3 separate regions of the Homo sapiens genome follow, and regions 1 and 2 are each linked to region 3. Evidence: fine-mapped expression QTL. A gene starts in region 3. Each other region holds a variant in brackets. All regions are shown on one strand. Distances are from middle to middle. Region 1 has its middle 72 kb from the start of PNOC. Region 2 has its middle 22 kb from the start of MIR3622B. Region 3 holds the start of CLU (clusterin).

Region 1 (8,180 bases), 630 kb before region 3:
AGGTGCAAAGACCCCAGCCAATGTGGGGCTGCAGATTCCTTTAGGATGGAAAGACAAGGGAAGGAAGTGGCAGCTGAGCTATTTGGACTTCCTTATGGTATGCAGGCCTTCATGCAAGGGAATGGAAGATGGCATTCAGCTTGAAAGCTGTATTGAGCAGGTAACCTCTGGGGAAAACAGCCAACGATTTCATGCTTTGAAATCAAGCAGACTGAAGTCCATGTGCTGGATCCTACACATTTGCTTTGGGGGTTTGGTTTGGATCAGACCTCTAGGTTTTGTGGTGGATGAAGGTGAACAGGTCATGATGGGGCCACTCCCAAGCTGGGGATTTCTTGGAGGGCTCCCATTGAACTCAAAATATGTACAGATTTCCACACTTTGAGCCATAGCCCATCCATGTTTTGTTTTAATATCAGCATGCTTGTTTTGGTTTGTCTTTGTTTTTTTGTTTTTTTTGAGATGGAGTTCACTCTTGTTGCCTAGGCTGGAGTGCGATGGCACAATCTCGGCTCACTGCAACCTCCGTCTCCTGGGTTTAAGTGATTCTCCTGCCTCAGCCTCCTGAGTAGCTGTGAGTACAGGCACACACCATCACGCCTGGCTAATTTTGTATTTTTAGTAGAGATGAGGTTTCTCCATGTTGGTCAGGCTGGTCTCGAACTCCCAACCTTAGGTGATCCGCCTGCCTCTGCCTCCCAAAGTGTTGGGATTACAGGCGTGAGCCACCACACCCGGCCTATCAGCATGCTTTAAGCTGGGTGTCTGGAGTACAACTGCTCCTGTTGGCCTTTGGCTTTGTGTACATGGACTCGGAGTCGTGTATGCCCCGGCCTGAACTTCTGTCGGTTCTTGGCTTAACCTCACATCTTCCCTGAAGCCTTTGCTTCATGCCAACCCACTCCTGCCTCTCACGAGTTCCTGGGATCTCCCGCACTTCTCCTTCATAAGACAACACAGTCGTGCTGGTTTATCTTATTCTATTCTATTTTATTATTTTTTTCAGGGATTGACAGTAGATGGAAATTGTGCTGATATAATGTCTGTCTCCCTCTCTAGGAAAAGCTCCAGGGGGGTGGGAAGTTTTGTTCATCTTGATCATTCTCTGAAGGTGCCCTTTCCTAAAACAAAAGTGTTGACCTGTTTACCTTTATCTTTCTTTATTGTCTTAGGGCGTTGTCTGTCTCATTGATCTTCAGACCGCAGCATAGAGTCATCACCTCATGACCTTGTGAAAAAGGGCACAGGTGTCGTGGAAGGGGCAGGTGAGAGACTCACGTGCCTGTGCATGGGTCTCAGCTCCCCCTCTCACGAAATGGGGAACCTTGGCCAAGTCTGTTGGAGACTTAGTTTCTTTATGTGTAAAAAAGAAATATAGTCTAATGATGCTTTGGGGGATCAATGTGGGAATGAAGCAAGTTAGTAATTGTGAAGCGCGTGGTTGTTTTTGTTGTCTTGCAGCAGCCAAGGCTCACCTTCCCCCTTCTTAAGGTTTGTGGGGCTCCTCGTTTGGAGGGCATAATAGCAATATTCCTGTCCTCATCCTGCAGAGAGGCTTCACTTGCCAGAATCCAATTCCTTCTTCATCAGGGACCTCACGATCGGCCACTGTCTCTCAGCCTGTATTTTCCCCTAAGGGGTCTAATTTTCATATCCTTCAAAGATGTGAAAATTACCTCCCTACAATTTGGGGGACCCCTACATGAAGTCCTGTGTTGTCACAACCAGAGAGAACTATTTTCCCTGTGGGAGGTGTCCTAGGAGCTGCCTTGAAGACAGCACTGAGCTGGCTGGGCACGGTGGCTCATGCTTGTAATCCCAGCACTTAGGGAGGCTGAGGCAGGTGGATCCCTTGAGGTCAGGAGTTTGAGACCAGCCTGGGCAAAATGGCGAAACTGTGTCTCTACTAAAAATACAAACATTAGCTGGGCATGGTGGCGCGTGCCTGTAATCCCAGCTACTCGCAAGGCTGAGGCAGGAAAATCGCTTAACCCTGAGGGTGGAGGTTGCAGTGAGCCAAGATCATACCATTGCACTCTAGCCTGGGTGACAGAGCGAGATTCTGTCAAAAAAAAAAAAAAAAAGGAAAATCAGAAAATAGCTCTGAGCTATTAGGAGCAACTGGCTTTAGTATTCTGGCTCAGGAAGCACATGCCGGTCAATCTAGTGCTCACAGTCACCCTGTGAGCCTGGGGTCAAAATTATCTTCATTTTACAAATGAGAACACAGATTGCCCTTGTTCTTTCCAGAGGCCAGAAATCGAGAGAGCCAGGCCCTCCGCCCACAAAGCCCTGGCTCTGCACTAAACACATGGTTGATTGGAGGCGTTGGCCTGAAGCTCCCTGGGGCTCGTAAAGGTGAACTGGCCTCATTCCCAAGTTCATCTGATTGATCCACAAAAAGCATCCATGGTTTCATTCTGGACTTTTGATGCCCTGACTGATTTTTGCTGATAGCTTGCTTGGGCAGTGATTCTGCGTGGATGGCTCCTACTTCTGAAAAGCCTGGTGTTCAGGGCTGTCCCATGAACTCAGAAGGCTCCTATTGCCTTTGGGAAAGTGAGGTATGGATGGAGTGAACTGGAGTTCTCAGCCACAGTTTTCCTCACCTGTTGCAGCTTCTCTGCTGTCCAGGCCACTCTATGCACAATTGTTTCCTTCTTGGCTCAAGATGCTAGAAGATTGTATCAGTCAGGGTTCTCTAAAGAAACAACTAACAAAAGATGTACTTATCTTTCTCTCTTTTCCTCTTGCATCTATCCATCTATCATCCGTCTATTTATTCATCTATCATCTATCTCTCTACCTACCTACCTATCTACCTGCCTACATTTATTTTAAGGAACTGGCTCCCACAGTTGCGGGTGCTGGCAAGTCTGAAGCCGGCAGGGAAGATTGACAGGCTGCAATTCAGGTAAGAGTTGATGTTGCAGTCCTGAGCGTGAATTCTGCAAAACAGGCTGGCTACTCAGGTAAGGTTTCTATGCTGCAATCTTCAGGAGAACTTCTTCTTCTCTGGGAAGCCTTGGTCTTTGCACTTAAGGTCTCCAAGTGATTGAATGAGGCCCACCCACATTATGACAGGTAGTCTGCTTTACTGGAAGTTTACTGATTTAAATGTAATCACATCTAAGAAATAACGTCATGGCAACATCTAGACTGGTGTTTGGCCAAACAACTGGGCACCAGGGCCCAGCCAGGTTGACATGTCACATTAACCATCTCACAGTGAATGTGGGACTCAGCCACCCCAGTATCTGTGGCCATCGCCCATGTTGGTCCTCCTCTCCCCCTGCCGCCTGCCGAAAAATTCACTAATGTTTGGAGGACTGTTTACTTTCTCTTCTCCTTCCAGAATAATTCTGGGCACTGTCTCAGGCTTCCATGCTTTTCTTGCCACCTCTACTTGCCCACCTGTCACCTATGAGGCTCTGAGGCTGTTCTAAGTTGGACCAAGCACTCTAAGATGAATTGCTCTCTTTGCTACATCTGTTCAAACTATCTCTATGGACTTTTTTAGAAAACCTGGACCATGCAAATCATCTTCACAAAACTTGTCCAAATGCCAAGAAGGCAAGGAAAATTAGTATTCATTCAATGTTTACAATTACAGCTAATGTGTTCATAGTAGATAACATTTATGATATAGTAAAATTGTACATTCATGTGTTTATGAGTATATAATGGAACCTCTCTTTTAATTAGCATGTATAGTATACTTATGGTATATTTATGCCAATTCTTGCATATATTTTTCTTGTAAGTAATATAAGAACTGATTTATAGATGGTGATATGGTTTGGATTTGTGTCCCCACCCAAATCTCCTGTTGAATTGGAGGAGGGGCCGGGTTGTGTTACCAGATGGAAGTTCTTGACTGTGAGTTGTCCAGGTTCTTGGCGTGTTGAACAAATAATTGAACAAAATGCACAAGGCAACAAAAGAATGAAGCAAAGAAAGCACAGATTTATGAAGTGCAAGTGCACTCCACAGAGTGGGAACAGGCTGGAGCAAGCAGCTCAAGAGCCCCCGAGTTGCAGTGTTGTTTAGGGTTTGTATTAGGCTAAAAGAATTTGGTAACACTCTGAGGTGCCCTTGAAAGGCCTCCAATTGGTTACACCCTATGAAAGATTGGCCCATGAACAATCAGAGGCTGAAGTGGAAACTCCTGTCTTGTTATCATAGGAGCCAGGATGTGGCCTGTGTGCTGCCCAGTCTTGCCTGGAACTGGCTGCACCTGCTGTTCTTCCAAGTATGACTTAACCCTTGGTTACCCTAATTCTGTATTCTCCTGCCTCAGTGGGAGGTGATTGGATCATGGGAACGGATTTCCTCCTTGCTGTTCTCACGCTAGTGAGTGAGTTCTCACGAGATCCGAGCATTTAATAGTGTGTGGCTCCTCCTGCTTCGCTCTCCTGCTGCCATAGGAAGGTGTGCTTGCTACTCCTTTGCCTTCTGCCATGATTGTGAGTTTCCTGAGACCTCCTAGTCATGCTTCCTGTTCAGCCTGCAGAACTGTGAGTCAATTAAACCTCTTTTCTTTATAAATTAACCAGTCTCAGGTAGTCGTTTACAGCAGTGGGAAAATAGACTAATACAGATGGGATGTCTTTGCTTTCAGTATATTTATGATGCTGAATCAGTTTCCAGTTACAATATTATTTCCATGAGGGAACCAAAGGCTGTTTTATGACCTGCTTTTATGAAATGGTTCTCCAGAGTTCAGCCTGGCCAGTGTGAAGTTGCCTAGTGACCTTTGACCCCTGACCTTTCCCCTCCCCTCCTCCTCTTCCTGCTCAGCCGTGCCCCAGTGTTGCTGGAGGGTGGCACCCAGTTACCTCTGGTGTTAAGAGAGAAGTACAGATGTCTATTCTTAGGTCTATATCCTGAGGATCTAATTAGATCCATTAAAATGGGATGTTTGCCTTGTAAGAAGGAATTTGTGTGTGTGTA[T/C]GTGTGTCTTGAGCTAATATCCCTGCTTATTTTTGAATGAAAAATAGTCTTCAAACAAATACTGTAATTTGACTTTCCAGCAAAAGCCCCAGGTCCTGGTTTACTGATTTATTTGGAAAGTTTTCCAGTGGGAAGTGCTTGCGGCAGGGTGGGAGCTGCTGAGTCCTGGGGGTGGGGGTGGGGCGGGGGACCACTTGAGGTCAATTGATTAATGAAACAGGGGCCCACAGGGTTCTGAGGCACTGAGAGTTGGGAAATGGAGGAGTTGCTGTTGTCTGGGAGGCTTTGGAGTGGAATAAAATTGGCCTTGCATAGGCAAGGTGGTTATTGAACTGAACTGGGGTCCGCTCGCCCGGTGCAGAAAGCCCAGAAATCCCCACCGAGGTCTCAGGGATAGAAAGGAAGGTGTTTATTTGCGGGGTGCCAAGCAAGGCCGACCGGGTAGCTATTGCTCAAACCCTGACCTCCCCTGGGGCTTAATTTCAGGAAAATTCAGGGTTTAATTTCAGGAAAACAAAAGCTACAGGCAAAATCGCAAATCAATACCTGGAGTTTACACGTTGGATTTGGCCTAAATGGGTGAGATATCTTAAAGTGGGGGCTTTCCGGTCATAGGTAGAGTCAAAGATTTTCTGATATGCAATTGGTTAAGAAAGAGAAGCTTTGTTTAAAAATTTGTGGTCAGATGAAAAAAATGTTAACTGGCTCCAGATGTGACTCCCTCCAAGCCCCTCAGGAAGAAATTAGAGCAAAGAATGATGGTCAGAGTTGAGTCCTCAGTTTCCCTGTATCTGAGGTCTACATGCCAGTGGGTCCATACATACATGGGGTTCCTTGGTCGGGGGATCCAGGGACATTTGTTAAGATATATCTTAGTTTGTCTAGGGAAACCAAACATCTCTGAATTCCAACTTCCCTTGGCTATCATTTTAGGCTACTGTGATCTTCTTATAAAGTTGCATGTTTGCCTCTCTGGGCTAGTGAGCTGCCTGGAGTTTCCCTTGAAGGAACTCAGAATTTTCCTTTATTTCCATGCTTGGGGCAGTGGAGGTCGGGGCATGGGCCCTTAAAAAGGGGGTCCCTGGCTGGGCGCAGTGGCTCACACCTGTAATCCCAGCACTTTGGGAGGCCGAGGCGGGTAGATCACCAGGTCAGGAGTTTGAGACCAGCCTGGCCAAGATGGTGAAACCTCGTCTCTACTAAAAATACAAAAAGTAGCCAGGCGTGGTGGTGCGTGCCTGTAATCCCAGCTACTTGGGAGGCTGAGGCAGGAGAACCATTTGAACCCAGGACTCGGAGGTTGCAGTGAGCCGAGATCGTGTCATTGCACTCCAGCCTGGGCAACAAGAGCGAAAACTCTAAGAAAAAAAAAGGTTGGGGGGTGGGCAGTCCCTGCTGGTCTCCAGCTTAGTTTGCATGGAGAGGAGTTGGGGGAGGGAGGGCTAGAGCAGAGGCTTGAAGGTGGAAATGAGTGTGGCCAAGGGGTGAGCTGGGAAGTGAGCCCTGTGAGGTGGAGGGGGGTTGTGAGAAAGGCGGGACAAGGAGCCAGAGGCTGACCATGTGGGGAGGTGATGGTCAGACGGAAAGAGTTGGACGCAATTTCATTCCAACATCAGGGAAGAGGAGTCAGAGAAGGATCTTAGATAGCAAAGAAATAGAATGAAGTTTGTGTTTGGGAAGAATGAATCTGGATGGATTTGGGGGGCAGGGATACCCTTTATTTAAATTAGAAAAATTACTTCTGTCCCTTTCATACATATTATTGATGAAAATAGTCACACTCTGTAAAATATTTGAAGAGATTTATTCTGAGCCAAATATGAGTGACCATGGCCTGTGACACAGCCTCCAACAAGAGAAATTCTTATCCTGCATGGGGTTAGCCTCGTTCCACACTAGGAGTTTCCATCTTTCCAGTCAAAGAAAAGCCAGGAAGCCTGGATTTTGGACTCTTCTACCGTTTAGCTCTGTATTTTGTCCAAATTGTTTAGGTTTCTCTCTCTGTTTACTTCTTTTTCTTCCCCCAAGACAGGGTCTGGCTCTGTTGCCCAGGCTGGAGTACAGTGGCACAATCAGAGCTCACTGCAGCCTTGACCTCCCAGGCCCAAGCTAAGCTCCCCGAGTAGCTAGGGCCAGAGGCATGTGCCACCATGCCTGGCTAATTTTATTTTTTTTGTAGAGAATGGGTCTCACTCTGTTATCCAAGCTGGTCTTGAGCTCCTGGGCTGAAGGGATCCTCCTGCCTTAGTTTCCCAATGTGCTGGGATTGCAGTTTCCCACTGTGCTGGGATTGCAGGCATGAGCCACAGTGCTCAGCCCACTCTTCCTATCTTAACTGAAGACTGGTTAAGTTGAAAATCATATGAAAATGTGAAGACATGTAAAAGTACTAGGGACTCCATGAGTGAAGATGGTATCAATTTATCTGGGGATACACAATCCTCAAGATAAGGAAGGGAAGCTAATACACACAGTGCCTTGTATGGGTCAGGCCTTCATAAACATCCTGTCATTTAATCCAGTCTCACTGCATCCTTATTTAACCCCGGGAGGAAGGAACCACCTTTAATACGTAATGAACCTAAGGTCCAGAGGCAGAAGTCATTTCCCCAAGTCACACAGCTCACAAGTGGCAGACACAGAATCGTAGCCAAGGGTGATTTGATTCCAAGGCCAGGCTACATCCATGTTAGTACGCTGTGGGACACTTTGTTGGACATAGCTTGCTAACGGTCAAACCTTTAATGGGGGATTCAAGGTTGATGAATTAGTTTGCTTGGCTGCCATCACAAAGTACCACATACTGGATGGCTTCAACAATGGATACTTATCCTTGCACAGCTCTGGAGACCGGAAGTCCAAGGTCATGAGCCATCAGGGTTGGTTTCTCCTGAGGCCTCTCTCCTTGGCTTGGAGATGTCCGTCTCCTCCCTGTGTCCTTACATGGTTGTGCATGTCTATGTCATAATCTTCCTATAAGGACACCAGTCATATTGGATTAGGGCCTACCCTAATAACTTTATTTAACCTCAGTTACCTCTTTAAGAACCCTACGTTCAAGCACAATCCCATGCTGAGGAACTAAAGGTCAGGGCTTAAACATATGAATTTCAGGGAGACACAATTCAGCCCATAACACTAGATAAATGTAATTCCTTGCTTCAGTCAATTTTAGTTGATAAAACTGCACATTGGCTATCTAAAATGGGGGACTACTTTGTAATTGC
Region 2 (8,180 bases), 110 kb before region 3:
CCAGCAGGTGGCAGGAGAGAGTAAACCCTGGTCTCGGCGCGCATCACGCGGAGGTTCAGCGGTCCTTGAGAAGGCTGGACACAGGAAGTGCTGCACCTCACAAAAAGCTGTGCTTCAAGGGGGGTTTCAAAGCTCTTTGCCTTTGAAATCTTAAAAATGTGGGCGGAAGGTGCCTGAATCTTCTTCTAAACCAATACTACGTGTTGATCTCAGAGGCAAACTGAGCCAGGTGCTGTGGCTCACACCTATAATCCCAGCTACTTGGGAGGCTCAGGTAGGAGGATCATTTGAGCCCAGGAGTTCGAGACCAGCCTGGGCAACATAGGGAGGGCCCATTTCATTTTAAAATAAATGCTGTCGGCTGGGCGCGGTGGCTTACGCCTGTAATCCCAACACTTTGGGATGCCGAGGTGGGGGCAGATAACTGCAGGTCAGGAGTTCAAGACCAGCCTGACCAACATGGTGAGACCTCATCTCTACTAAAAATACAAAAATTAGCCAGGTGTGATGGCACACACCTGTAATCCCAGCTGAGGCAGGAGAATTGCTTGAACCTGGGAGGCAGAGGTTGCAGTGAGGCAAGATCGCACCACTGCACTCCAGCCTGGGTGACAGAGTGAGACCGCATCTCAAAAAATAAATAAATAAATAAATACTGTCAAAGCACAATGCTCATATTTAAAATCAAATCTCTTTGGTTTCAGAATAAACTGTTTTTATTTTTTATTTTTTTTGAGACGGAGTTTTGCTCTTATTGCCCAGGCTAGAGTGCAGTGGCACAATCTCAGCTCACTGCAACCTCCACCTTCCAGTTTCAAGCAATTCTCCTGCCTCAGTCTCCCAAGTCGCTGGGATTACAGGCGCCCGCCACCAAGCCCAGCTAATTTTTTAAATATTTTTAGTAGAGACGGGGTTTCACCGCATTGGTCAGGCTGGTCTCGAACTGCTGACCTTGTGATCCACCCGCCTCGGCTTCCCAAAGTGCTGGGATCACAGGCATGAGCCACTGCGCCTGGCTGTTGTTTTTAAGAGACAATGTCTTGCTCTGTTGCCCAGGCTGGAGAGCAGTGGCGCAATCATAGCTCACTGCAGCCTTGAACTCCTGGGCTCAAACAATCCTCCCACCTCAGCCTCCTGAGTAGCTGTGACCACAGATGCACACCACTACACCCAGCTAATTTTTAAAAATTGTGTAGATGCAGGTCTTGCTATGTCACCCAGGCTGGTCTTGAACTCCTGGGCTCAAGTAATCCTCCTGCCACGGGCTCCCAAAGTGCTTCTATGTTTCCTTTGTGCATGTCATGCACAGGTTTCATAGACTCATAGCCTGTGGAGGTTGGAAGAGACTTTAAGGGTCATCTTAGCTGACCTAACTGTGACCTCTGCGACTCCCTAAACAGAAGACCTAAGCCTGGGCATGAATGCATCCAGAGACGGGAGCTCATGACTCACAGTGACTTCTACCTGCTGCTCTGTCCTCTGGAGCCACACAGTACAAGTTGAATTCATCTTTTCATGTGACAGTTTAAAAAGTTTCAAGACAGCTGTCAGCTGCCACCTGTGACTGCCCCTAAACATCCCATTCTCTGTGATCCAACGAGACAGCAGGAAAAGCAGGCATCTGCGGACAGAGGATGGCTTCTGACATCCCATGGGGCAAGACCCCCCAACTCTTCCCTGTTTGGCTTACTCCCAGGGAAGGAGCAGCTCTTGAACTGTGCATGGTCTCCAGCCATGACTCCAGCCATGAACCCAACCATGATCCCAGCTGGCCTGCACAGGAATAGGGTAGAGACAATTCTCCAAATGTAGCCTAGACACCTGACTCTGACTTACACCACCCATTAAATCCCCTGTCTTTTCTGCACTTTGTATTGATTAGATTATTCTGGTTTTTTTTTTTTTGGAGGGGGCAGTGGTTTGGACCATGGTATAGAACTTTAGATTTATTCCTTAAAATTTCTTTTTACTATATAATGTAACAAACACACAAAAGAGTGTATGAAAAGATATGTTCATTTTCAAGGATAATATAAATATAAATATAAATATAATATAAATATTATATGTTATATTTCTGAGGTTAGGAAATAGAGCAGTACTCACCCATCCTTCCTCAAAGTCCCATTTGCACCCTTTCCTAATCACATGCCTGGCTTCCCCCCAGCTCTCCTGAATTTTGTGATAATCATCTGCTTCTTCTTCATATCTTTTATCTCTGATGTGTATTTCTATAAATAATACACTGTTTAGTTCAACCTGTTTTTGTTTGTTTGTTTGTTTTAGAGACAGGGTCTTTCTCTCTTGCCCAGGCTGGAGTGCAGTGGTGCAATCACAGCTCACTGCAGTCTCAAGCTTCTAGGCTCAAGTGATCCTCCTACCTTGGCCTCCCAGAGTGTTAGGATTACAGGTGTGAGCCACCACCGATTCTTCCTATTTTGAAACTCATTCATGGAATCTTATTGTAATGTTTTTTCTATGACTTGCTACTTTCAGTCAATATTATGTTTTGATGAATTTTCTCTGTCAAAGACATCTAGTTGGAATCTGCCTATTGAGTTATTTATGGTTCTCATTATTTCCTTGAACATAATTCCTTTTACAAATATATGTACATGTTTGTAAATATTCCTTCTATATTGTCACCCCCCAAAATTTGGAAGAATGGGATAGGTCTCAGAATAGTGCCTTCAGCAAACATCCCTTCTGACTGAGGTTAATCCATTACTTAGCACTCTTTGGGCACACTTAACCAGTTTTTTGTTTGGTTTTGTTTTGAGAAGGAGTCTTGCCCTGTCGCCAGGGCTGGAGTGCAATGGTGCGATCTTGGCTCACGGCAACCTCTGCCTCCCGGGTTCAAACGGTTCTCCTGCCTCAGCCTCTCAAGTAGCTGGGATTACAGGCACCTGCCACCACACCAAGCTAATTTTTGTATTTTTAGTAGCGACAGAATTCATGTTGGCCAGGCTGATCTCGAACTCCCGACCTTGTGATCTGCCCGCCTCGGCCTCCCAAAGGGCTGGGATTACAGGCTTGAGCCACTGTGCCCGGCCACACTTGACCAGTTTTAATCCTCCTGATTTTACTTTAATCTGGACTATATTCTCCTACTTGCTCACATGGTTGTCAAAAAACAACCTTGCTTTAGAGCCAGATAAAATATATTTATGGCGTCTTCCTGATCTACCAGTCTAGCAACCCTGCCAAAAATAAAAAATAAAAAAGGAATGAGGCTTTGAGAACTTGTATTGACTCCTAGTAATTGCTGTACTATTTTCTAAATAACATAAAGCAGCCCTTTGGTTTCTATAATTTTGCCTGTGATTGATGGCAAGTCATCAAGCCGAGAGTTGTGGGAATTCACTGTTGACCTCTGGAAAATAAGAACTACCCTTTCCAGGCCAGGTGCAGTGGCTTGCGCCTATAATCCCAGCACTTCGAGAGGCTGAGGCGGGTGGATCACTTGAGGCTATGTGTTCGAGACCAGCCTGGCCAACGTGGTGAAACCCTGTCTCTACTAAAAATACAAAAATTAGCTCGGCATGGTGGCACGTGCCTGTACTCCCAGCTACTCGGGAGGCTGAGGTCGGAGACTCGTTTGAACCTAGGAGGCAGAGGTTGCAGTGAGCTGAGATCGCACCGTTGCACTCCAGCCTGGG[A/T]GACAGAGCGAGACTCTGTCTCTGAAACAAACAACAAAAAGAACTGCACTTTTTGATACCTAGTCTTGCTTTCCATGGTTGCTCAAAGTTCACAAATAACACTTGAGAAATCTCCACTGACAAGTTTTCAGTACCTGGGGTGTCCGTCATCTGGGCCAGGAAGCTAGGAGTTGGAGAGGACAAGAGGTATTTTTAGTACAGAGAAGGGATCGACTGGGACAAAGCTCTTAATGATTGGCTTCCAGAACGTGGTAGATGAAGTAATTTGTAAGAAATCAGCAGTCGGAGTGAGATTAAGACTCTAAGGATGAAGGGGAAAGATTGAGACAGTCAGTGCGTGACGAAAAGCTCACTCTTACAAGAAATGAATCAGAAGGTTGCCAAAAGGAAGTGGTAGAGTTAGAACAATTTTGTAGTCGGTCCATTTAGCATGGAATGATAACTTTCTCCACCTGCCAATTCGGAGCCAAGGAACAGGAGAGAAGAAAGAAAACAAGATAGCCCAGGGCTGTGGATGCATCAGCTCAGGGGTGAACTTCAAGGAGTTCAGGTCATTTGTGGGGCAGCATCAGAGGGGCTGAGGGGCTCCAGGCCCCGCAAGAAGGAAATCAAATATATATTTTAAAAATGTATGGACAGGTGAAAATGGGACAAGTAACGTGATTGGGGATCTGTCCAAGAGATAAGTGGGTTATGGAAGGAAAGGGAAGCCACCACCAAGTATGAGACTAAGCAGCAGATGCACAGCGTGGTTGATGTTGGGATGTATTCTGGGGAAGCAATGCTGCCTGCTGCCGAAGAGGGAGCCCAGTGTGCTGGTGGGAGGGAGAGATGGGTTCAGGTGGGGCGGCCATATCACCTGAAGTCAGGGACAAGTGGACCTGGTGCCGGGGTCACTAGGAGAAAAGGGATACCCTGTTGGAGAAAGTAACAGGACCAGATGGTGTGACCTTCAGTGTCAATGGTGGGTAACAGTCTGGGGAAGCAGCAGAAAACAAGGCGTGGTTTCCTACTTGGCCATACAATGTTATGGTGAGGGGAGATGGATAGGAGAAAGCTGCTTTGGTTAAGGAGAAAGGCTAAGGAGAAAAAGGCTTGAAAATGAATGGAAATTTGCAGTGATAAGGCTGGGGATAGTAGGGCTTTCTGACAGCAGCTCAAGAGCCATTAGAGAATGGGTCTGAGGCCAATGGCCAGGGGCAGAGCACAGCAGAGAACTGTGGGTGGCTTTTGGAGAAGACATGTTGTGGATACTATGGATGGAGGCACGAGGGTTTGGAGGTCTGTGTGAGGGCCAGGGGTGATCTTGTTGAAGCCTCACAATCATTCTATGGGGTGAATCTGACCTCTTTTTTTATAGATGCAGAAGCCCAGAGTAGCTGTGAACATGAACCATGAGCTCTCTGTGGGCAAGGCTGCCTGTGTCTTCATGCATCTTCACATCTACAGGAGTACCTGTCCCAAGTGTGGGAGTCTGTGCAAAAGGACAGTTAGTCCATTTGCACAATACTTGCAAGCTTTTCAGGAGCATGCAAAAAATGTATGAGACCTTGGAAAAATGTACTGGCTTCTAGATTCAAATAGAAACCACAATCGAATACATATTTAATTAATGTCTACAAATGTCATGCTACCATATCATCCTTACATCTAGATTTAGCATTCATAAATATTTCATTTCATTTAGAGACAGGATCTCACTCTGTTGCCTAGGCTGGGGCACAGTGATGCTATCATTAACTTACTGCAGCCTTGACCTCCCAGGCTCAAGCAATCCTCCTACTTCAGCTTCTTGAGTAGCTGGGACCACAGGCGCATGCCTCCACTCCTGGCTAATTTTTGTATTTTTTCTTTTTTGTAGCGACGGCATCTCGCTACATTGCCCAGGCTGGTCTCAAACTCCTGTTTGAGAGTTTGGCCAAGTGATCCACCTGCCTTGGCTTCCCGAGGTGCTGGGATTACAGGCAAGAGCCACTGCACCTGGCCTTATTTCATTTTAGACTTGTAAATTGGAAGTGCACTTTGATTACTGAGGAATCATGGTCATTTGTAAACTGGGTTGCTCAAAGCCAAACATCAGCATTATCCCTAAGTTAAGGGTGAGTTCCAGGGTCCTGGGTGTTCCTGGCAAGACCCCCATTCCACCTCAGTCTCACCGACACCATCTAACTTGAGGCCATTGGGATGAATCTCAATTGTCTTTTATCACTCTAAAGGCCAGAACCAACCATTTAAAAACCCTTGTTCATGGACAATAAACCAATCTTGCCTCATTCTTTTGTTCTTTATATTTCTTGCTTTATTTTTATCCATGACATTTATCTACCATACTGTATATATTTTCTATCTATTTGTTGGACTCAACCCCAAATAAGTTCCATAAGACCTGAAATGTTTGTTACTTCTCTGTCCCCAATGCCTAGAACAGTGCCCGGTTCATAGTAGGTACTCAATAATATTGGTTGAGTAAATAAAATTTTTGAAAGCAAAGTCTCTAAAAACTTCAAAATTTTACAGCAAATACAGATATATATGTATATTTATTTAATGCATAATATGAGTAAATTTTATTGCATTTGATGTGAGGTGGAATAGAGCTTCTAAAAAAGTAAGAAGCTTGGATGTTCTTAAAATGGCCTTACTCATGAAATGAGGGAGGTGGGGAGGGAGGGAGGGAAGGAGGGATGGATGGAAGGATGGATAGATGAGTAGGTGAGTAGATGGATAATAGGTGCATGAATGGATGAATTGGCAGATTGGGTGAATAGGTGGGTGAATGGATGGGTGGGTGAATGAATGGATAGATGGATGGATGGATAAATAGGTGGATGGATGAATAGATGAATGAGTGGATAATCAGGTGGATGGATGAATGGTTGGATGACTGAGTGGGTGAATGGATGGGTGAGTGGATAAATAGGTGGATGGATGGATGACTGGATGGATAAATAGAAGGCTGGACGAATGGATAGATGAATGAATGGATGGATGAATAGAGGGGTGGGTGGATAAATACGTGGATGAATGGATGGACGAGTGGATAAATAGGTGAATGGATGGATGGATGCATGGATGGATGAATGGGTGGATGAATGGATGGATGGATGGATAGCTGGATGGATGGATGGATGGATGGATGGATGGATGGATGGATGGAGATAGAAAGGACCTTAGAGATCAGCTGGAACAGAAATATACCCTAATTTGATCAGGTGGTGATGGAGACTCGACTAGAACCAGGATCCTGATTCCTAAGCCAGTACTCTTTCTGAAGCCCCACATGCATAGTGGGTGAAAGATGGGGTAAGAGTCTTAGTTAGCAGAGATGAGTTTATTATGAAACTGATGAAGCTTAAGTGGTAGGGTCACCTGACTTACACAGCCCCTTCCCAGACCAATCTCTAATTTCGTGTTTGTAATGTTACATTACTTAAGAGTCTTCTTAAAGAAAGACTCCTGCCAGAGTATATCAGCTTCAAGCTTCCCAAAATCAGGATCCACCTGATCTTGGGCAGAGACAGAATGGCCTCCCCTCGCCACTCAGACTTGCTCAGCACCCTCCTGTTTCTTACTTGCCAGAGAGGGTGAGGTATCCTTCCTCACCTAGCTTTCGAGCACCCAGCCTTGAAGCACCCCACATCTCCTATAATCTCCATAACCTCTCCAACTGCAGTTATTTTATGGGGAAAAGCCCTCATCCCTCCCCATCCTCTGACCTGGCCGTTTCCTGTTTGTCCTTGAAGACTTAGCTCCAACATCTTCAGGAAGTTCTCCCTGATCAGCTGCAGGGTGAGTCATGGGCTTTTTCTCTGTGTTCCTTGGCTTTCTGTAATTCCTGTACATTAGCACTTCTCAGAGTAAATTATAATCAATGAGTCATTCCCAGGGCTCTAGAGCTGCATCTTTTCTATTTTAGACCCCAAGACATTTTGGTGACAGAGGTCTCAAAGAAGTGAGGAGGATTGGGTCTTTAAAGACAGTTGGGAAGGGAGACAATTAGTTTGCCAATTACTACATCTGCTTCTTCAATTGCAAAAAAATCAACAGCATAGGGGAATAAATAATAGGATGTTTACCAAGCACCTCTCCTGTGTCAGAGGCAGTGTTGTTTAGTCTTTTCGACTCCTTTGCTATTGTTAGAATTGAATGGATGAGAACTCCGATACCCTGAAAACTAAGATGGCTTGGTCAAGGTCACACAGCCTAGACCTTACCTTCATTCCTTTTTTTTTTTTTTTAACTTTTATTTTGAATTCAGGAGTACAAGTGTAGGTTTGTTACATAGGTAAACTTGTCATAGAAGTTTGTTGTACAGATTATTTTATCACCCAGGTATTAAGCCATTAACCCATTAGTTATTTTTCCTGATCCTCTCCCTCCTCCCACTCTTCACCCTCTGAAAGTCCCCAGTGTGTGTTGTTCCCTTCTATGCGTCCACGTGTTCTCATTATTTAGCTCCTACTTACATGTGAGAACATGCAGTATTTGGTTTTCTGCTCCTGTGTTAGTTTGCTAAGGATA
Region 3 (8,180 bases):
GGCCTGTAATTGATTAAATAAATGTATATACCCATTAAATAATTACAGCTTGGAAAGTGATTCTTTTTTACTAAGAATCATTTGTGATCTTTTTACTAAGATCGTTTGTGTAATGATCGAATTAGGGTAATTAGCAAATCCATCCTTTTGTTTGTTTGTTTGTTTGTTTTTGGATGGAGTCTCACTCTGTTGCCAGGCTGGAGTGCAGTGGTGCGATCTCAGCTCACTGTAACCTCCAGCTCCCGGGTTCAAGCAATTCTCCTGCCTCAGCCTCCCGAGTAGCTGGGACTGCAGGCGCGTGCCACCATGCCCAGCTAATTTTTGTATTTTTAGTAGAGACAGGGTTTCACCATGTTGGCCAGGATGGTCTCTTGACCTAGTGATCTCCCCACCTCGGCCTCCTGAAGTGTTGGGATTATAGGCGTGAGCCACTGCACCCAGCCTTTCACTAAGTTAAAAAAAATTAAAACTGACACGAGAATGGTACATATTTGTGGGGTACAATGTGATGTTTTGATACGTGCACACATTGTGTAAGGATCAAATTAGGGTAATTACCAAATCCATCTCAAACATTTCTTTGTGGTGAGAACATTGTAAGTTCTCTCTTCTACCTATGTTGAAATATACATTATTCAAAAAATAAGAGGTGCTGGTGAGGTTGTGGATAAAAGGGAAGGCTTATATACACTGTTGGTGGGAGTGTAAATTAGTTCAACCATTTTGGAAAGCAGTGTGATGATTCCTGAAAGAGCTAAAAACAGAATTAACATTTCACCCAGCAATCTCATTACTGGGTATATATAGGAATATAAATTGCTCTGCCATAACGACACATGCACTCATATGTTCATTGCAGCACTATTCTCAATAGCAGAGGCATGGAATCAACCTAAATGCCCATCAGTGGCAGACTGGATAAGGAAAATATGGTATATATACACCATGGAATACTACGGTATACACCATGGAATACTATGCAGCCATAAAAAAGAACGAGATCATGTCTTTTGCAGGAACATGGATGGAGCTGGAGGCTATTATTCTAAGTGAAGTAACACAGGAACAGAAAACAAAATTCTGCATGTTTTCACTTATAAGTGGGAGCTGAATGATGAGAACACATGGACACATAGAGGGGAGCAATAGATACTGGGACCTAAAAAAAAAGTTAAACTCTACTATGCGATAGAATACCAGAACTTATCCCTCCCATCTGACTTTAACTGTGTACTGGTTGACCAATCTCTCACCATCCTCCCTCCCTGCTCCCCTTGGAGAGTGATTCTCTTATTTTTTTCATTTTTATTTTTGAGAGACAGGGTCTCACTTTATTGCCCAGGCTGGAGTGCAGTGGTGCGATCGTAGCTCACTGCAGCCTTGACCTCCTGGGCTCAAGCGATACTCCATCTCAGCTTCCTGAGTAGCTGAGATTGCGGGCATGCACTACCATGCTTGGCTAATTTTTTAATTTTTGTAGAAACTGGGTCTTGCTATGTTGCCCTGGCTGGTCTTGAACTCCTGGACTCAAGTGATCCTCCCACCTCAGCCTCCCAAAGTGCTAGGATTACAGGTGTGAGTCACCACGCCCATCTGAGAGTGATTCTTAATCACAGGCCACAGGATACTGCTCTTGCCCATTCCTAGTTTGTTCCAGCTGTATCAGACTGCTGGCTGAGCTGTCCTGCTTGTGGTGCTGAGCCAGACAAAGGCTGGTTGGGGATGTGTAATAAGGACACTGCGTAGCGAAGCAGCCCCAGAGACATTCAGGCAGCCAGAGATGGTGCACAAAGCATAGATAAACAGATAAATGCAAGGGTCTTTACTCATCCCTCCCTGGCCCTCCCCATGGCTCTGACTCTCCAAGAAAATAAATCAAGCTAATGCCCCAAACCCAGCTGTGTAAGTCCATAATGGGAGACAGAGGATCAAACAGCAGCACCTGCCAAGAAGATGATGCATTCTCTATGAATCAGCCCAGTGACTCAGCATCTGATAAAGCTTATTTGGAGTGTTTAGGGCAAGGGAAGGGGTGGTCCTGTTCTGCTTTGTGTGCTCAGGCCCTCCGGCATTGGCTGGTCCAAGGCTCCCCACTGGCATTGGCTAGTCCAGGGCTGGGCCAAGGGTTTCAAGAGAGATGAGGTCCAGAATGTCAAAGGGCTGGGGAAAAGTCTGCAAACCACGGCAAGGCAAGGAGCTGCAAGCCTGGAGGTCACTGGGAAAAGCAGACTACGTTGCCTTCAAATATCAGAAGGGGCACTATGGGAGAGATAGGCTGGATTTTCTCTGTGTGGCTCCAGAGGGCAGAACTGGGCTCCGGATTGGCCCATACACGAGCCAGACTGTGACTCAACCAAAGAAGGCCCTAACTTTATCAACAGCTTTACTAGACAAATGGTTGCATGGCAGGTAGTGAGCTCCCTGTTATTGGTGGCATTCAAACATGGGCAGGATGACCACCGGGTGCAGATGCTGGGGATGGGGTAGGAATCAAGCAGTGTGTGAGTCCTGAACCAATCAATGTCTATGATCTGCTTAGAATATGAAACATCTGGTGATGCATTTATGGCGCTTTCAAAATTTACACTTTTCTTTCCTCAAAGTTTGACCTTCTGAACCTTGTTTGCTTAGTAGTGGGAATAATCAAGTAATTATTCCCAAGGGATCACAGTCATGACTGTGAATCTGTGAATCATGCTATTTTCTCCCAAGTCCTTTCTTCCTCTCTTCCCTTCCCCTAATTCAGCTGGCTAAGGCGGATCTCACTGACTGACCTCCAAAGTCTAATTTTTAAAAATATAACTAGATTTATGCCTTCTGTTCCGGATGCTGAGGGAGCTACAGAACAGAAAAGTTACAAGGAGCGAGCTCAAAAACAATTCTTCTAACCTCAGGTATTGATAAGGAGCAGGCACTGATAAGGAGCAGGCACTGTCCACAGAAAATGTAGCTGTTACTGATAATTAGACATTTTTTTTTTAAGAAAAATAAAGTGTAGCCTCTTCTGGGACATTTTTTTCTTCTTCTGGGTTAATGGCCTTCTAATACTTGGCTTGGCTCTAGGTTAGGTTGCAGGGAGCCGTGGAGATGATCCATTCCCGATTCCTCATCGTCCAGATGGAAGAAACTGAGGCCCAAGGGCAAAGTGATTAGTCCGAGGTCACCCAGTGTCTAGGGGCACACCTAGGACTGTAATCAGACTTTCATGGACCTGGTCTGGGTTCTCCCACTTAGTCATGGGCCTTGAAGATTCCCCGAGGCTGCCTCCTGAAAAGGACTGGGGTCCTAGTGGCCCCTGGACGTTGGGCAAGCAAGGGACTGGGCCTCCATGTTGTGCCTCCATAGTCCTGATCCTGAACTGGAAAACTCAGCCCCTGACCACGCAGCTCTCCTTTAAGCCCCTTTGTTTCACATGGTTTTCAAAGTCTGCCACCCACAGTGGGGCTGCCTGTACCCGCCCTGTCCACCCATTGCCCCAGCTGTCAGCCCCTTGACTTCTCTCCTGGGGCTTAAACATCCCTGGCTCCAAAATGGGCAGCTCACTTTCTTCCCCAAGAAGTAGCTGCACCTCCAGGGTTCCTAGATTTGCCCCTCCTTGCCAGGGGGAGGGGTGGCTGCGACAGGAGATTCTCCCTGCTCTCAGCAGAAGGAACTCCAGCAGTTGGAGACCAGCAAACCCCTCTGGACACAGATCTGATTTCCTAACTGGGAAGGCTCAGGGCAAAATAAAAATTCAGGTCCACTGGTTCAAAAACTATGAAGAATTTCAAGACCGTCACAGTAGCCCATTAAACCAAACGTGGATCTGCAAGGGTCCCACAGCCATGAAGCCCACCCTGCTTGGTTGGGTTCCAAAAAGATGGGGACAGTGATTGCTTAAGCTCTGTGGATCAAGGACCCCGGAGAGGCCTTCTGGCTCTCCACATATCTGCTCTGATCACTCCTAAACACAATTCTGTTTCCTCCAGGCCTGGCGGGTCAGTCCAGGGACCCCCATCAGTGTGATGTTTCCAGGAGTAGGCGTTTCAATACTTCCTGTGCTCTCTTCTCCAGCACAAGGCCCCTCTCCATCCCACCCTCATTATGTCTGACTCTTTACTATTTAAATGGGTCAAGAGAAGTGGCGCTTGTGTAATGTGAAGGTTAAGGTCAGTAGGGCCAGGGAACTGTGAGATTGTGTCTTGGACTGGGACAGACAGCCGGGCTAACCGCGTGAGAGGGGCTCCCAGATGGGCACGCGAGTTCAGGCTCTTCCCTACTGGAAGCGCCGAGCGGCCGCACCTCAGGGTCTCTCCTGGAGCCAGCACAGCTATTCGTGGTGATGATGCGCCCCCCGGCGCCCCCAGCCCGGTGCTGCACCGGCCCCCACCTCCCGGCTTCCAGAAAGCTCCCCTTGCTTTCCGCGGCATTCTTTGGGCGTGAGTCATGCAGGTTTGCAGCCAGCCCCAAAGGGGGTGTGTGCGCGAGCAGAGCGCTATAAATACGGCGCCTCCCAGTGCCCACAACGCGGCGTCGCCAGGAGGAGCGCGCGGGCACAGGGTGCCGCTGACCGGTGAGATGTCCCCGTCTTCCCTACCCTTGAGCAGAGCCACACCAGGACGGATGGGCGGGCAGGGGATGGCAGCCAGGCAGAGAGGGATGACACAGCTCGCAGTCACAACCCCTGCGCTTTCGACGGAGCCCAGGAAGCCAGGGAGGGGAGGTGGCCGGAGCCCCATCACCAGGCAGCTGAGCCAGGGGCCCCGGCGCAACCGCCGCCTGAGAGCACGAGCTCCAACCACAATTCTGTGGTGGGGGGGTAAATAGAACAGATATAATGATCATCCTTTCGCAAAGATGGGGAAACTGAGACCTGGAGACCTGCCGCGTTGCGGGAGACCCAGGCTAGCAGGTGACAGAGCTGGCCTGCACCGAGCTCCTTCCTGCAGCATATCCTCTGCGAAGATGCGGATCTCTCAGTTGTGGCTTTCGGCTTGCATGCATGAGTCATCTAGTTTTCTTCTAAATTCTCTAGCTCTCTGGACACTGTTGCCTGTAAGTATGAGGCTGCGGATTTCAGTATATGCTGCAACCACCGAAATCCGACTTTTTCTGCCTCCTAATGCATCTGAGGTGCATCAGAGAAAAGTCACACAAGATCCACCAGGCCTCAGACCTCTGATTCCACAGTCTCATTTTACAGATGATAATCTGAGGCCTGGAGAGGTTTAGGACTGGTGCCAACACTAAACAGCAAATAAGTATCAGAATTGGGATTCGAGCCAAAGCCTCTTGACCTTCCAGAATTTCTGGACCTAGTTAAAAAAAATATGATTTTTATTATTATTTTTTAAACGGAGAGGTTAGGAATTTAAAGGAAAGTACAGATACTATATAAAAAAAGATGCCCATGAAAATGTTAAGTTATAATAATAGTGGAGCATTGGGCACAACTGAAATGGCCAATCTTGTGAGAATGGTAAAATAAACTTAGGTCCGTGAGTAAGTGGAGTATTACATAGCCATAAAAGTATGCCCTTAAAGAATATTTGAAGATGGTGAATGTGAAGAATCTTGTATAAACTGCATGGAAGACAGAAGGAAATATACCACAGTGCTAACCTTTGCCTCTGGGTGATATGAATTACCGGTGATTATTTTTCTTATTTTCCTTTTGGTTTAGTTTTCTCCATTTGAAGAAGCAGATAGGAGCCGGGGCTTTGGGATTGAAACCCTCACCATCTGTGTGCCCTCTTCACTGTCTTCCCATCCTCCCCACGGCTCCCTGTTCACAGTCATTGATTTTCTTTCTTTCTTTTCTCTCTTTTTTTTTTTTTTTCCTGAGACCAAGTCTCACTCTGTTGCCCAGGCTGGAGTAGAGTAGCGCCATCTCGGCTCACTGCAACCTCCGCCATCCGGGTTCAAGCAGTTCTCATGCCTCAGCCTCTGAGTAGCTGGGACTACAGGCGCATGCTGCTACATCCGGCTAATTTTTGTATTTTTAGTAGAGACATGGTTTCACCACCTTGGCCAGGCTGGTCTCGAACTCCTGATCTCAAGTAATCCGCCTGTCTTGGCCTCCCAAAGTGCTGGGGTGACAGGTGTGAATCAATGCGCCCTGCCAGGTCATTGATTTTCTTAAGCCTCCAGCCCTGCCCTGCTTGGAAACGTTTTGGGAAGCTGCTCAGTTCAAAGTTCCCAGGAGGGTGTGCCTGGAGGGGAGTTGCTCCCAAAGTCTGCCTGCTCCCCCCGCCCCCCCTGCCCCCCACCCCCCGCCATCTTCTCCTCCTCCTCTTCCCCTGAGCAGCCCCTTTGTCCACAGAACCGGCCTTTTCTGGTAGAAGGAGCAAGGCCAAGTGGTTTAAGCCTTCTTAGGGAGAATGAGGCTGTGTGGTAGTGCTGGGGACTCGAGGGCCTTGGCCTTGGCATGGCTCTTCCACCCAGGGCAGCTGGCAGCCAGGCTCCCAGGAGGCAGAGGAGATGAGGGGGGAGGTGAGTCCGAGCAAAGGAAAGGAGGTCGGCTGTGCAGTCACGGTTCTAGAACATTCCTTGGATCAGCAGCATCCATATCACCTGCAGACTGGCTGGAAAAGCAGTCTCAGAACCAACATTATAACCAGCCCTGCAGTGATTCATAAGTACTTTAAAAAGTGGTCAATCATTTCAGCAAAGCAGAGCCACACAGTCCGGGGGACCACAGGTGGCCTCTGTGTGCTTGTCTCGGTTTTCCTGCCCCTCTCCAGACATGTTGATTAGACACTGCCAATGCCCAGCCTCAGACCTCAGTCTAATTTGGAAGTAGTCAGAATTTACTATGATTACATAAGACCCTCGTGTTTACAGAACACATTCCCCTCTCTGAGGTCTGGATTAGATCCATTTTACAGATGAAGAAACTGAGGCTCAGATATTTAAGTGACTTGGAATCAAGGAAAGAATACTGGACTAGGGGTCGGGAGGGCTGGGCTCTCATCCCAGGGTTACCATGAGCATGCTGTGGACTCTAGGGAGTCCCATGCCCTCTCTGGGCTTCAGCCTCACCGCTAGGGTAGAGAGGTTGGGTGAGAGAACGACCTCCTTCCCAGGTCTGAGCTGGATGGTTCACCAGGGACCCCAGGCTCCCTGGAGCAGACTCTGTGCCCGCTGCTGAGTCTGGAATTCCTTTCCTGTATCTTGCCTTTGGCTGCCCCATTCTTCATGGCCCAGCACCCTGTCTTCTGGTCAGAACCTAGTTCTGAATGGGTTTTTCCAGAAGTTGTTGCTTTCAGGGGCCCCTGGCAGAGAGGTGTTTCTGGCTGGCTTTGTCTCTCTGGCATGACAAAGGCTCTGTTCCTGCTGGAGGCATTTCAGGGCTCAGTGGGCAGCTGGGGCAGAGCCCGTGAGACCACAGCCTTCCTGGTGAGCCCGGTCTCCGCCCCCTACCCCATCTCTGGGGAAGGCGCTGACCCCATCTCTTCTCCCACGCTGCTCCCTGGCTCTTTGCGCCTGATTACTTCTCATGAGAGGCACTCCTTGTTAATGTGCTACTGAGTGTCCAGATGGGCCTGCTGGGCTGAGCGGGCTTTGGATGTGAACCATTTCAGGAAGGGGAACCCCATCGTCCTGTTGGTTCTGTGATGGCAAATGGGTGAGCTCAGATAAGCAGTTCTTGGGAGGGGCATGGTGGGGGTGGAGTGCAGGGGGAGGGGTTTCTGTTTTATGCAACAGCCTCAGCTTCTGGGAAAGGGTCCATTGTGTAAGACCGGGGCTATGGCCTGTGCCCCGTGGCTCAGGGCAGCCAGCCCAGTGGTGGCAGGAACACTGGCAGGGCAGCCTGCTGTCGGCTTAGAGGGGATGGGCAGTGTGGAGGGCCTGGCAGAGCAAGAGGACTCATCCTTCCAAAGGGACTTTCTCTGGGAAGCCTGCTCCTCGGGCCACTGCGAACCCTCTCTACTCTCCGAAGGGAATTGTCCTTCCTGGCTTCCACTACTTCCACCCCTGAATGCACAGGCAGCCCGGCCCAAGTCTCCCACTAGGGATGCAGATGGATTCGGTGTGAAGGGCTGGCTGCTGTTGCCTCCGGCTCTTGAAAGTCAAGTTCAGGTGGTGCTGAGACTCCCTGGGGGCTGCAGCGCTGTGGTGAATGGGGAGCGTCTGCTGGGGTGAAGGTTTAGGTGCACATTGCAGAGGACGTGGCTGGTCTCTGGGATGCAGTCCCTCTG

Evidence for each region. PIP is the estimated chance that this variant, and not a neighbour inherited with it, causes the effect. A credible set is the group of variants that fine-mapping cannot tell apart.
Region 1: its variant is the best candidate, but not a certain one, in a credible set for the expression of CLU in skeletal muscle (GTEx, PIP 0.70).
Region 2: its variant is the best candidate, but not a certain one, in a credible set for the expression of CLU in thyroid (GTEx, PIP 0.65).

What each region holds. Positions count from the first base shown.
Region 1 is chr8:28,241,336-28,249,515 of GRCh38, reverse strand. No RefSeq gene overlaps it. Among named protein-coding and RNA genes, the nearest start is that of PNOC, 72 kb to the left of the region's middle. The variant T/C (reference allele first, on the strand shown) is at 4,954.
Region 2 is chr8:27,719,255-27,727,434 of GRCh38, reverse strand. It overlaps a transcript of SCARA3 not described here. Among named protein-coding and RNA genes, the nearest start is that of MIR3622B, 22 kb to the right of the region's middle. RefSeq lists an enhancer at 9-248. The variant A/T (reference allele first, on the strand shown) is at 3,660.
Region 3 is chr8:27,611,027-27,619,206 of GRCh38, reverse strand. CLU (clusterin) reads left to right here and starts at 4,507. Exons shown (of 9, transcript NM_001831.4): 1 at 4,507-4,552. RefSeq lists enhancers at 1,872-2,628, 2,919-3,419, 4,376-4,875, 8,058-8,180 and silencers at 4,264-4,353, 5,909-6,094.